Linked DNA regions of Homo sapiens: region 2 is linked to region 1. The links come from fine-mapping of genetic effects on gene expression. Tissue or cell type: sun-exposed skin. Region 1 holds a variant in brackets; the other region holds the start of a gene. All regions are shown on one strand. Distances are from middle to middle.

Region 1 (7,348 bases):
GAAGTGAACCAAGTTCACTTAAACTAAAGTTTATAAAGACAGGCTTTTAGCTTCATTCTGCTGAAGAAAGTAGGTTTAGGACACTGAATATAGATCTAAGTATAGGAACTCAAGCACAAATACTTCTTTTTATTGAGTGCTACCAAAGGTAGTATTTAGCTTTTCAGATCATCCGTTTCTCTCATACTTCTCCATATCCCTCTTGTCTGAGCTTTTTATCCTCTTGTGCAAGGGTCTTATACAAGGCATGTCATTTGATGTGTTTGTTGAATGCGTCAAGCCATCCATCCAACCTTACTTCCATGTTTTATTCATTTTCCTGAGGATAAGGATTTAACTGTGTTGCTTTTGGGTGTCTTCCCACCTGTAATGACCTGCCCTTATTTTCCTTTGATAATCATAATAATTTACACATTGCTTTGAGAAGAAAACTGGTTATCTAAAACAGGAAAGGTTTCATATTATTGCCATCTATGAATCAGTTAACTCCATTTTCCTGAATTGAAGTGAATCTAATGAAGCAAACTTTGAGATTCAGAAGGAACTATTAGTTCCTTCTGTTTTATAAATCTCATTTTAATATTCAGCAAGTTAGTAAAATTCAAGTCTCTGGGCTTAAATCTGCCACTTACTGCCAGAGTGATGTTGGCAGTTTATTTAACTCCTCTGAGATTCTGGCTTATGAAAAACACTCAACAAATATTAACTCCGTTGTATTTATTTCTGGTCTCCTGCTAACCTCCTACTTCCCCCCACCCCCCCCCAAAATATCGCCCGAACCCTAGTGAAACATAGCTAAATTGAGTGTCAAGACAGCCTCCTGATAGGGAGAAGGTCGAAAAACAGGAGCCCATGAGACACGAGGAAGAGAAAATAGACCACTCTTGATTTCATCAAATCTTAGACTTCTCTAAGTCTTGTTGCCTCTCAGCGCATGAATCCCTTCCACAACAGCTCTGCCTGGTAGTCATTTGGCTTTGGCTTTAAATCAGAGATCTTACTATTTTCATTACTTTTGTTTGTTTGTTTTATTTTGTTTTGTTTTTTGAGACAGAGTCTTGCTCTGTCACCCAGGCTGGAGTGCAGTGGCGCAGTCATGGCTCACTGCATCCTCAACCTCCTGGGCTCAGGTGATCCTCCCACCTTAGCCTCCTGAGTAGCTGGGACTGCAGACACACACCACCATGCTCAGCTAATTTTTGTGTTTTTTGTAGAGATAGGGTTTTACCATGTTGCCCAAACTCTTGAACTCCTGGACTCAAGCAATTTGCCCACTTCAGTCTCCCAACGTGCTGGGATTACAGGTGTGAGCCACCACACTCAGCCTACTTTTCATTATTGAAGATAGTTAGGGCAGGGTAAAAGTTTTCATGTTTTCTACCAGCTTCATAGTTTCTTTTGCAAATTGCTGTATTGGGGTTTGTAGACCTTTCAAAGGAGAAAGGACCACAGCACCCTCAGTGAGTATTTCCTCCAAGCTTGGTCTTGGTTCCTGCTTGACTAGCCTTATTCTTCTCCATCTTCTTTTAGGTGTGTATCCTCTGTTTGGACGAAATGCTTCCAACCTCTCAGGAGCTGCCTTGCGAGTTCATGTGGTTCTTTCCTCTCTTTCCTCACACCTTGAGCCCACTCATGAGCTGGACTCCATGGACTGCAGCAGCCACAGTGAGTCTGAGCAGCTCCCCAGAAGGAATGATGAGGTCCAGCTCTCTCCACCAGAAGTCATCTCCTGCCACCAGAAGTCTCCTGCCTCCACCCAGGTCCCCTGCAGCAGCACCACAGCTGAAGTCCGCCTGACGCAGGAGGGCCCTGCTGATTTGGATGGAACGTTTGCAGTCAGCATCCTAGTAGAAAGAGCAATGCACTTGAGCTTGAAAGGTATGCTCTCCTCACCTACCCAGGAGCATGTCTAACTCTTCAGGGTGTGCTCCTTTCTTCACAAATCTTTCAAATCATGGCAGGATCTGTTAATTATCTCAACTGATAAATATTTATTTCTCAAGCCTAAAGGTTTAAGCAACATGAAAGCTTTTCTGAACTTGTTGCATATCGTAAATTCCCCAGTCCAGCCACCTGAGTCTCAACCTAGATAGATACTTCTCTTTTCCTTATCCACTGTCAAATCATCGGATCCCTAACTTGTTCTTTATTAAATTTCTCAGATTTCTTCCTTCTGCATTCCTGCCAACTCAGGCCTTCCTAATGCACCTAGGGCCAGGTGTTTTTAACATTGGGTCCTTAAACATCCAAGGGATCCGTGAAAAGTTCAAACTCCGGGTTAGTGGCCTTGGATAGGAAAATAATTACATCTTTATTTTTAGCAACCTCTAGCTAAAATTTAACATATTTCCTCTCATTATGAATATAGGCAGTAGATCCTAGTAATAGTACCTGTGATATTGTCAACAATAGAAATCACAGGTATTTCCATATCACATCATTATTGCAGATATCTTAGAATATCACTTATAACTATGATTTCTTTGAAATTACAATAGTTAGGGGGGTTTTTTTGTTTGTTTTGATTTTTTTTTTTTTTTTTTTGAAACAAAGTCTTGCTCTGTCGCCCAGGCTGCAGTGCAGTGGCACGATTTCGGCTCACTGCAACCTCCACCTCCCAGCTTCAAGCAATTCTCCTGCCTCAGCCTCCTGAGTAGCTGGGATTACAGGCTTGTGCCACCACTCCTGGCTAATTTTTGTATTTTTAGTAGAGATGTGTTTTCACCATGTTGGACAGGCTGATCTCGAACTCCTGACCGCAAGTGATCCACCCACCTCAGCCTCTCAAAGTGCTGGGAGTACAGACGTGAGCCACTGTGCCAGACCTACAGTAGTTATTACCTATAGTTAGACCTTGTTACTAAAGCACATATATTACTATATCACAAAGTTCTTTTAGTTTTGATAACTCTATGTAAATATAATTGGATTTCTCTGTAATCCTATGTGTTTTACATTATGCATTTTAAAGAAACACTGTTAAAAGAAGAGGCCCATAGACCTTGCCAGATTGCCAGAGTCCATGGCACAAAGAATTCCTGCCCTACCTTTATTCAGCATTGTAATCTCCTAAAATTTCCCCTTTGCCGTCACCCTTCTCTTTTGCCTGGCTACTTCCAGCTCCTCTCTTCAGACCCAGCTCAGGCATCACCATTTCCTGGAGGGCTTTCCCAATATAAAGGCCCCCTTCTATTTGCTCCCCTGGCACTTTGCCCCTGTATCATATCATATGTCACACAGTACTGCAGTTGTTTCCATGGTTTTCTTTTCAACTAGATATGAACTGTTCAAAAGCAAAGACCTCATCTCATTTGTTCATTCATCATGCATTCATTTATTTTACAACAAAACTTACTGTATTTGCTACATGCTAAGCCCTGTCCTTGGTGCCAGGGATAAAACAGTAAAAAAAAAGGACAGACAAAAATTGTGCCCTGTGGAGATTACATTCTAGTAGGAATATATTTATCCCTGTGTCCCTAGCCAATAAATTGTATGTGTACATATGTGTGACTTTGAGCAAGGTATTCTTTCTCTCTGTCTTGAATTTCTCATCTGTAAATGGCTGTGATTAACAATGTTCAGATGTGTGGTGTCTATGAGAGCCAGTCAACCATGGCCTTATGAATCCAGAAAGTTTCAATATACATCATTTGATTCAGATTTGACCTCTCTGTTTGGCTCCTGTCATCTCTGT[T/A]TTGGTGTCTCTCAAACTGTGTCATGTGTCCTTACTACTTTAGAACAGAAACAAAACCTGTGCTCATAGTAACTATTATTTATCTCTCATTCCTACTCCTCCCCGTTTATACTACCAACAGCCATTACTCCTGGGATTATAAGCTTCCATAATGATCCTTGATGTTCTCATCCATTTCAGCCATTGTGTATCAGAAACCTTGAAACATTCTATATCAGGACAAAGTCTTCTTCAAGTGCAGTGTGAATCACAAAATTGAACAATTTTTACTTGTTTTTAAAGAAAAAAAAATTTTCTGCCCCACCAAAGCAGCCATTTTTGACAAATTTTTTTTAAAGACCAAAAAAATCAATAGATGAATGAGTTTAAGGAAAGTATTAAAAAGCTTCTTTTATTTTTGGAAAGTTTTTTTTTGTAGTTGCATTGAAAATAAAATTTAATATACAAAAGATATGGTATATGTTACATTTTAGGAGAATTCCCATATTGTTAAAAAAAAGCAAAATATACTTACAAATTTTCAATGAGACAGTGAATTACAGTTTTATAATATCACTTGGCAAAATTTTATAATAATTTATTGAGCATCATCTGCTGTGTGCTGAGTTCTATTCTAGTCTTTGTACATTAATTATGGGTTAGGTATCCCAAATCCAAAAGCACCAACTTGGTGCTCAAAGGAAATGCTCATAGGAATATATCAGGTTTCAGATTTTCAGATTTGGCATACTGAATAAGTATAATGCAGATATTACAAAATCTGAAATACCTCTTGCCCCAAGCATTTCAGATCAGGGTTATTCCCTGTATCCCCTTTAATCCTTGCCACGAGCAGGATTATAGTTTGAAGAGATTACAATACATAATCATTTCACAAATGAGGAGACCGAAGTTCAAAAAGGTAAAATGACCTGAAGTTACATAGTTAATGCGCTCTGCAGAACCAGATGGGCAGGTCTATACTCAAAGAGACAATGGGCAGATCTCTATACTATAGGTCTACACTCTATGCTCAGCACAGTGCCTGACTGACACATAAATGTCTGTGGGAGGAAGGACTGCATGGGCTTATCACTGCAGGGTGGAAATCAGGATACAACAGTGACGTCTGGAAAGTCAGATGTCTACCCTATGCTTGCCTTGACCTGGCTAAACAGAAAGAGGCTAAATAACAAGTGATTTACAGGTCTGCAACTCTTGCCAGAAATGTGAGAGGCGTTATGTCTCATATTCATAAAACAGGAGGACATTATGTTTGCTTTGCTGCATCATGAAGATCACAGTGCTGGGATAAACAAACAACACACAGTCCCTGTCCCCAAGGAACAGCCTAATGGAGAGACATGTTAACATTTTTAGTACAGAGGAATAAACGATATGAAAGAGGAAAGCTGTGGGGAGGTGGATGTGGTAGTATAGGAAAACTTTGAGAACACAGAGGGCATTTTTTTGCTAATGGGGTGGTCAGGGCAGGCTTCCAAGTATTGGTGTCACTTTAGCCTACTCTTGAAGGAGGAGGAGCAAGTTTGCTGAATGAAAGAGGAAAAAGGCATTCTAATGAGAAGAAACAGCATGCTCAAAAGCTTGGTAGTATGAGAGAATGGGACATTGGCCAAAAAAAGGTCATTAAATGTGAGTAAAAAGTAGTGAGAAATGGGGCTGGAAAGACTAATTAGGCTACATAGGCAGCATTTTGTATGCTACATGACTGACACTGCAGGTGAGATGAAACCAACAAAATCTTAATCTGTGGAGAGGCAAGGTCATATTTGTTGACCAGACATGAAATCTTGGTGGCAGTATGAAAAAGATACTGGAGAATACCGAAAGCAGCAATCACTGAGAGGGCCGTCACATTAGTTCAAGTTCTGAAGCCTAAACAAGCAAGGTGGCAGCAAGAATGGAGAACAGGCGACAGAAACTTTCTGGTAGGAGACCATGATTCTACACTCTGTACTTCTGACTTTCCTCTTGCCTTAATAGTGTTCTCAGAGTGTCTGTCCTTTTTATGCCTTGGAAGCTCTTTCTTAAGGAAGGAAATGAGTGGTTCCTTCATGCAAACCTTTATGCAGAGGATTCACAAACAGCCCCAAATTAGGAGCTTTGCCTTCAGCAAAGCTGAGTTCTGAAGCAGCTCTGAAATGGTCTGTGGTCACCACTGTAGTCCTGGTTCTGAAAATAAAAGAACTTCTTGGATACTTATGTTAGAAAAAGCTCTGAGGAACCTTCGGTTAAGATCAGCTTCAATACTCTTAAGGTTTGTATACTTATATTAGACAAAACAGGTATTTCTAGCCCTGTTTTACAAATGAGACAAATAAGGAACAGAGAGGTAAAATGATTTGAAGTAGCATAAGTTATACTCAGTAAAAAGTAAAATCAGCTTCAATATTATCAACTTTTAGAGGCATTCTTTAGCCCATCAAGGCAGAGTTCAGGACACCTCTGGGTTCCCATGTGCTTTTAGCATAGTCTTTATCTTATTGGGTTGTAATTATCTGTCTGTGTTTGTCTCCCGCAGATCAAGAATCAAATCTGACTCACCTTGTACAGGTGTGACACAGAGGAGGTGTCAGCTAATGTTAGCTTAATACACCTGCTGGGCTAAGTTTTTATTAACATAAAAAATTGGACATTGCTTAAGGGGGAAGTTTCCATCCATTCACTCCAGGCCAAAGGGAGAGCACTTCTCTTAACCAGATGGAGATAATTAGAATGATTGCAATGGAAAAAAATCTAAAGTACGAGTCAGGAAACCGTGGTTCTTCTCAATGCTAGTTAACCAGGTATGTGATGAGCAAGCCACTTCTCTGTTCCTTGGTTGCCTTATTTTTATAATAGGGATAGAGATGCCTATCTTATGCGATTTTCAGAGACGTTATCAGCACAACTTTAGTGTGTAAGAAAACAGTGTGCAAGCTGTAACGCATTATCTAAATATGAGAAGTTGTTATTTTAATCTCACTGAAACAATTACACCTTTCTTGATGCATAAAATTCTTAAATGGCATAACTGGTTCACCTCAGGTCTTCTTAATGTGTGTCCCAACCCTGTGGGGGGTATAGCAGCCTTCTTTTGGGCTGCTTCCAAAAGTATTTCAGAACTTGACCTTTTTCAGAATGTAAACAGGCCCAGATGAATTTCCACCTACAAGAGGAGAGCCAGAGAAACCTGATAGACCTGCTCTCCCAAGCTGATTTCTTTTTCACCCACCTGTTTGGCTAAAAGGAATGTGTCTGTTCAAGACTAAATAAGGAACTATCTTCTTCCAAAGTCAAAATAGTTTTGTTTCAAGGCCTTTAGCAAATAGCAGCTTTAAAAATAAACTGGAGGATGGCCGGACGCAGTGGCTTATGCCTGTAATCCCAGCACTTTGGGAGGCTGAGGCAGACAGATCACTTGAGGTCAGGAGTTCAAAACCAGCCTGGCCAACATGGTGAAACCCTTTCTCTACTAAAAATACAAAAATTAGCTGAGCGCAAGCCTGCAATTCCAGCTACTCAGGAGGCTGAGGCAGGAGAATCACTTGAACCCAGGAGGTGGAGGTTGCAGTGAGCCGAGATCGTGCCTCTGCACTCCAGCCTGGGCGACAGAGTGAGTGAGACTCCGTCTCAAAAAATAAATAAATAAATAAATAAACCAGAGGGATG
Region 2 (6,939 bases), 240 kb before region 1:
AGAAGGTCTCTAAGAATCTTATGGGTGTACCTTATATTTCAACCAGGAAAAAAAAATGCTTCTAAGAATCTTAGGGCTGGCTGGGCATGGTGGCTCACACCTGTAATCCCAGCACTTTGGGAGGTCAAGGTAGGTGGATCACTTGAGGCCAGGAGTTCGACACCAGCCTGGGCAACATGGTGAAACCGTCTCTAAAAAAATACAAAAATGAGCTGGGCATGGTGGCATGTGCCTGTAGTCCCATCTACTCAGGAGGCTGAAGCAGGAGGATCATTTGAGCCCAGGAGTTCAAGGCTATAGAGAGTCGTGATCGTGCCACTGCACTCCAGCCTTGCAACAGAGCAAGACCCTATCTCTAAAAAAATAAAAAGACTTTTAAGACTGTTGTACCACAACCCTGAGTCTCAGCCCAAGTTAGAGAAGGGCACTTCTTGGGAAGAAATATAGATATGGTTTTTGTCTAACGGAAAGAACTCCAATAAGATTTACAGGAAATCCTCAAAGGTTTTAAGATGATTTTATCAATAGAAGTACTGCCCACTTGGGCTAAAGAGACAGAGACAATACAAAGCAGATACCTTTGGGTTCCTTTATCAGTTTCCTACTGTTGCTGAAACAAATGACCACAAACACAGTGGCTTAAAACAACACATATATTGTCTTACAGCCCTGGAGTTCCGAAGTCTGAAATGGGTTTCACTGGACTAAAATCAACGTGTCAGCAGGTCTCTGTTCCTTTTGGAAGCACTAGAGGAGAACCTGTTTCCTTGCCTTTCCAGCTTCTAGAAGCGGTTCACAATCCTTGACTGGTGGCCTCTTCTTTCATCTTTAAAGTCAGCAATATAGTACTAAGTATCTTTAAATCTTTCTGACTTTGCTTCCATTGTCACATTTCCTTCTATGACTTTTAAGGACCCTCATGATTGCATCGGGACTACCAAGATAAACCAGCATAATCCTCCAATGTCAAGATCCTTAACTTAATCACATCTGTAAAGTCTCTTGTGCCATGTAAGGTAACACAGTCATGGGTTTTGGGAATCAAGACATGCACATCTTTGGAGGGAGGGCATGATTCTGCCTACCACAGTCCCTAATCTTCTATGGTCAGAATACCTTCTATGGGAAGGCTACTCAGTTAGAAAGGGTTTGTGCAAGCTAGGAGCCTTGAAGCTTAAGCTTCAAAACCTTCTAGGTAAATCTGCCTCTGGTATTGATTAAGAATATGGAATCAGGATCCACATGACCTGGGTTCAAGTCCCTTCTCTACCACTTACTATGTATGTTGATTGAATTGATGTTACAGATTGGGTTTTCTAGAAGCAGAGGCACAGCTGGAGTTTGAGGTGCAAGATGTTTATTAGAGATCAGCATCTACGAAAGGGAAAGGAAGCAGGAAAAGGCAGAGGAAGAAGTCAAAGAGGCTTGACAAAGCCTTGATCAAGGTGGCAGGTGCGCTGGAGCTAGTATTTCCTGTAAGAATTGTCTCACGATGGGCCAAAATGGCTAGGCCTTGATTCCCTCACCTTGCTCCATTGCTGGATTAGGGCTGTTCCAGGAAGGACATTTCCCTAAGCGAGACTGCTCTCTGCTATAGGACAGACCCTAAAGCAGCTGACCACTGGATACTCTTCTCATCACATACCCTGCAGCTGTGCAACAAGTCCTTCTTCGAAGGGGGATCTGCATGTTACATCTCATGTCTACACAAGCAGTGGTGTGCTGGAGCTGGCTCACCCCAGCTCACAGGAGTTGTTGGCATCTTTATCCAACCACAGTCAGTGGTGACATTTTTGCATGTCGAAATTAGCCACTGTGGGAGAATTGACACCACAGAAATTGGCAAATGCCACAAACCAGAACTTTATTTTTTTCCTGGAGAGCTGGTTTACCAGCACACCTCGAATGTGGTCCACAAGTGATTAACACTGAGTAGGTTAATGATTGTCCCTACAATTCAGTCTTCTCATCGGTAAAGTGGGGCCAATAATACTGTAAGAATACTAATATTACTTAGGCTATAGGGTCAGCATGAGAATTAAATGAGTTAATACATGTAAAATACTCTGGACAGCGATTAAATGAGTTAATATATGTAAAATACTCTGGATGGCGACTGCCACACAGGAAACACCCGGTAAGTATTAACTACTATGTTTACTGTTGCCATTGTTATTACAATTATTGCTACCTTAAAAACTTCCACTGGATTTTCATAGAGGACAAGCACCTAAATTTCTTAGTATGACATGCAAAGACCTTTCACAATCTGATAGTTTCAAGCACAAGAAACTTTTCATCATTTCTGGAACTCAAACTGTTTTCCACCTCCAAACCTTGTCACGCCCATGTACCTTCTGCCAGGAAAGCCCACTCCTCCCTTGCCTGTCAACTTCCAATTTTTTTCATCCTTTTGAACCAGCACCCATCACCTCCTCTCTGATGCCCTCTCCACCCACTACATGAGGGTTCCTTCTTCAGTGTTGCCATTGCATATTGCACAACCCTCAGTTACTCTGACAGCACTTTATTGTGATTACTTGTTTACATAACTGTCTCCTCCTTTGAGTCCAGGATTGGATCTGCTATTTCTCTGTGTAGGCAGCACAGTAACACAGGTACTAATAAATATTTGTTGCATGAATGAACATTGCCTGGGAAATGCATAAGAGGGGGGAAATAGAGTACATAGCCTAGTAGGCTATAATAATAATAATAATATTTTTATTTGCTTAAGTGACTCTAAGTATATTGTGTAAAGCAGTGACTTTAGGACCCCAGAGCTTCAGGTTCTGTAAGTCCTAGATTTGTCATATACTCACATCCTGACACAGTCCTACTTATCCTTCAGATGGCTCAGATGTCACGCTCTCTGTGAGGGTTTTCCTCCCAGCTGTCCTCTTGCCGCTCTTTGCCTGCGCACCTATTCACATACGCATAATTGACTCTTCTGGACGTCCCTGTGGGGATCCAGTGGTGTTTGTGTATTCCCACTCCATGGTACAGAGGGGCGGATATTTTGGGGATCCTGTGAGCGTGGTGTTAACAATATTTGGGGATAGTCACAGCCTTAGACCTGTGAATTCATCGCTCACCCTGCCTCCGCCTCAATTTCCCCTAGTGTGATGGGCACAGTGGAAACACCTTCCCAGGGTCGCGATTTAGTGGAGGGCGGCGGAGACTGATGTTGCAGGAAGCCCCCACGCATTCCGAGGAGCTGAGGAATAGAGAGCGAGGTGAGGCGTCGAAACAAGGAAGGAGTCAGGGGGCGTGGAGCGAGACTGGGCGGTGGACGGGACGGGCCGGGCCGGGGCCAGAGGGCGGGGCCTGAGCCGGGAGGGGGCGGAGACAGGGGCGGGGCAGGCGAGGGCGGGAGCGGCTGCCGCCGCGCGGCCAGGACTGTCTGAGGGGAAGTTCGCGAGCGCTGGCTATGGGTCCTGGGGCGCGGCTGGCGGCGCTGCTGGCGGTGCTGGCGCTCGGGACAGGAGACCCAGAAAGGGCTGCGGCTCGGGGCGACACGTTCTCGGCGCTGACCAGCGTGGCGCGCGCCCTGGCGCCCGAGCGCCGGCTGCTGGGGCTGCTGAGGCGGTACCTGCGCGGGGAGGAGGCGCGGCTGCGGGACCTGACTAGGTGAGGGCACGACGAGTGGGAGCGACCGAGGGGCCTCAGTGGGATACACTGTGCCGCAGGGTGGGGTGACTCAGGTTGAGTGTGACCCCAGGCTCATTGTCATGCTGCGTGGGACCCCAGACCCACTGTCGCACCGTGCGACTGAGACATTGTGGCATGGGGTGGGGAGTGGCTCTGAGGGCCAGTGTGACCCCCTAGACCCATTGTCACCCTGTGTGGGACCCTGACACTCCGTGGCATGAGGTGTTGGCGAGGGTTGGGTCACACTGGGACTGCAGACTCCATCACACACATAGTGGCACCCCCCATATCCAGCGTCACACAGCAAAGTTGATACACTGTGGAAGAGCGGGGCGGGGTGACTCTAGGACCTCACAATGTGCTGTGCAAAGCTGTGTGAGCCCCAGGCCCTGTGTCACACTGACACAGACACAGTGGACGGTGCTGTGACAGAGACACTGTGAGAGTGACATGGAGAGAATACGGTGACGCTTTAGCTACGCAAGTATTGACCTTTCAAGGGGGGATCGTGAAACACCGCATGACCTAGTGAGCTGATGTTTAGTGTTAGGAGTCAGGTGACAGTCTTCCACCATATGTGAGGTTTACATGTCATTGGGACTGGATGGGCACGACACTGTGGATATCATACTCTGCATGTGAATGATGCTGAGTAACTGTACAGGTCGCTATATGAATAATGCTTCAGTTCATTAATTCATACAACACATATTTTTGAGTGCCTACTAAGAGCCAGGCAGTGTTCCAGGCAGTGGGGATAAAATGGTGATCAAGAGCCAACTCTGCCCTCGAGGAGTTTGGGTCTGTAGCACCATGACTGTTAATCAGAGATGTCCACTGCCGTCTACGTCTTCAGTTCTTCCTTCTCTTTACACATGTAGAAGCTCTCTAAATACTAAATAAATGATAACTGAGATGTTATATGTGTGTCAACATATTTGATATCAAAAAAGCACTGTGAAAAAACATACTTGATGCAGAAGATACTGAGTGTAGCACACAGCAGTGGATGCTCAGCTAATATAGTTTTGGGGTACAGTCAACAAACTCTAGTGCTACACACTGTGGCATAAAAGGTTGTCAGACTTGGGATGCTGAGGCACCATAGTCATGTATCGACTTAGCAGTGTCCAACTGACAAAAATGAAAGATAAATGATTGTATATGATACCATCTGTATGAATATGTGCTGCGCCTTCTCTGCCTGGGACATCAAGAAGCCTACAACACTGACAGAGTGGTTATGACCACGTCACTATTTGGATATATTAATATTGTACTTATATCATGTGACCTTATCATTGAGCAAAGACAGCACAATGCACTGCTTTTAAAACTTTGCGTGAGTGTGTGTGGTAATAATACTGATTCTGGGGTGACATGAGAAGAAGGTATGTGGAATGGGGAGTGACTCTGAGGTCCAGTGTGACCCCCAAACCCATTGTCACCCTGTGCGAAACTTTGTGACCCCATGACTGTGAGAGAGAGCTATGTAGAAGAGAAGCATTTTGTGGGTGGAAAGTATTTGCGAGAGATCTTGTTAATAGTGACTGAATGAGCTAATGTGGTGCTTGTCCTTAAGTATGTGGCTTGCGTATAAACAGCTTGAAATAGTGTGACAATATACAATATAGGTATGTATTAATTTTAACAATAAATGAAGATCATTTCAATAATTATTGTCACTCTTTGGAATAGCATAGTTGTCTAGTATTCTATGGGTCCATGTTGACCGAGCCAAATGTTTTCTTTTTGTTCATAGCCCAGAGTCATTGGAGTCCAAGCTTATTAGTGGAAATAGGACAGAATTTTTTCTCTTTGATTTCAGAGCCCAGCATTCTCCCTGCTACCCATGCTTGTTCTCATACCAGTAATCTCTTTGGGTAGCTCAGATGGAGACGGGAGTGGGGGGTCAAAATCCCCCTGCTGGTCTTTCAGGTTACATTCTCAGAAGAGAGCACTTGAAGCATTTTGGCCAAAGCAGCTGGCCAACCCCATTCCACCATGCTGGTCTCCTTCACTGTCTTTCCACCACTGTCATTATCACAACTTTGTCACAGCAGGAGGTCTCATACAAACCATATCTCATCTGATTCTCTCTCACACACAATGCTTTGAAATAGATTTGTATTACACTTGTTAACTATTGAGAAATCAGTTAAAACATGAGAAAACTAAAGTCTAGTTGCTCACTCAAGATTGTATTAATAAATCTAATAGGTAGCAAATCCAGGACTAGGACACAGTTGTTTTGATTGTTTATCCAACTTTTTTCCTACTATGCTATGTTATCCCTACCACTTCTTTTATCTGTTATACCAAGACATAGACCAAGCCCCTAACTAATTGAGGTTTTACTAGTGGCCACAGTACATGGTGGTTAACAGTGAATTCAGGAGTTTAACAGACCTCTATTTGAATCGTTGGCTCTGATCTTGGACAAGTTACTTTACCTCTTTGAGCTTTAGTTTCCTAATCTGTAAAATGATGATAAAAATAGTACCTACCACCATAGGGTTTTTGGAAGGATTAAGAGTACCATGTAAAAGTTTTTATCATTGTACCTGGCATGTAACAATTGATGGACAAATGCTAAGCCTTTATGCTTATTATTTTATTTTATTTTATTTTAAGACCATCTAGTGAAACTAGGCCCCACTTTTGGCTCTAAGTATTAACTAGGATTGTGACAGCCTAGATAAAAAAACAAATCAGAAAAGTTCTCAATTATTTTCTCAGGTGACTTATGAACAGTTAATTTTGTAGTTTAGTTTGATATTTTGAAGACTGTCATTCTGTCATTCTGTTCTCTAGTGACTGCTCTAAAACCCAGTGAAATGTTTGCTTTTTAAGAGACAGGGTCTTGCTCTGTCACCCAGGCTAGAGTGCAGTGGCTCTATCATAGCTCACTATAACCTCAAACCCCTGGCTCAAGTGATCCTTCTGCCTAAGCCTACCAAGTAACTAGGACTACGGGTGCACACCACCATGCCTGGCTAGGGTTTTTTTGTTTTTGTTTTTGTTTGGTTTGGTTTGATTTGGTAGAGACGGGGTCTTGCTCTCTTGCCCAGACTGGTCTTGAACTCCTGACCTGAAGTGATCCTCCCTCCTCGGGCTCCCAAAGTGTTGGGATTGCAAGCATGAGCTACCGTGCCCAGCCTTTATGTTTGCCTTTTAAAACAAGAATTTTGGCAGTTCTTGCTAATTTTTCTATACTCCCAATCTGGTGATTTTATGTAACTTGAGAGGCTATTTCCAAGGCTCTCAGTTGAGATAGAAAAATGCAGT

Direction of the effects. Alleles are on the strand shown, and positions count from the first base shown. SD is a standard deviation of normalised expression in the study named.
For the expression in sun-exposed skin of the gene that starts at base 3,402 in region 2, A is the low allele of the variant in region 1 and T is the other (small effect, 0.32 SD a copy in GTEx).

Evidence for each region. PIP is the estimated chance that this variant, and not a neighbour inherited with it, causes the effect. A credible set is the group of variants that fine-mapping cannot tell apart.
Region 2: P4HA3 starts here. The variant in region 1 is the best candidate, but not a certain one, in a credible set for the expression of P4HA3 in sun-exposed skin (GTEx, PIP 0.66).

The regions. Positions count from the first base shown.
Region 1 is chr11:74,068,783-74,076,130 of GRCh38, reverse strand. C2CD3 (C2 domain containing 3 centriole elongation regulator) reads left to right here. Exons shown (of 33, transcript NM_001286577.2): 24 at 1,531-1,878. Among named protein-coding and RNA genes, the nearest start is that of UCP3, 63 kb to the right of the region's middle. RefSeq lists an enhancer at 3,491-3,560. The variant T/A (reference allele first, on the strand shown) is at 3,698.
Region 2 is chr11:74,308,103-74,315,041 of GRCh38, reverse strand. P4HA3 (prolyl 4-hydroxylase subunit alpha 3) reads left to right here and starts at 3,402. Exons shown (of 13, transcript NM_182904.5): 1 at 3,402-3,630. The coding sequence starts at 3,431. P4HA3-AS1 (P4HA3 antisense RNA 1) reads right to left here and starts at 3,680. Exons shown (of 7, transcript NR_120556.1): 1 at 3,593-3,680; 2 at 3,096-3,217; 3 at 2,823-2,923.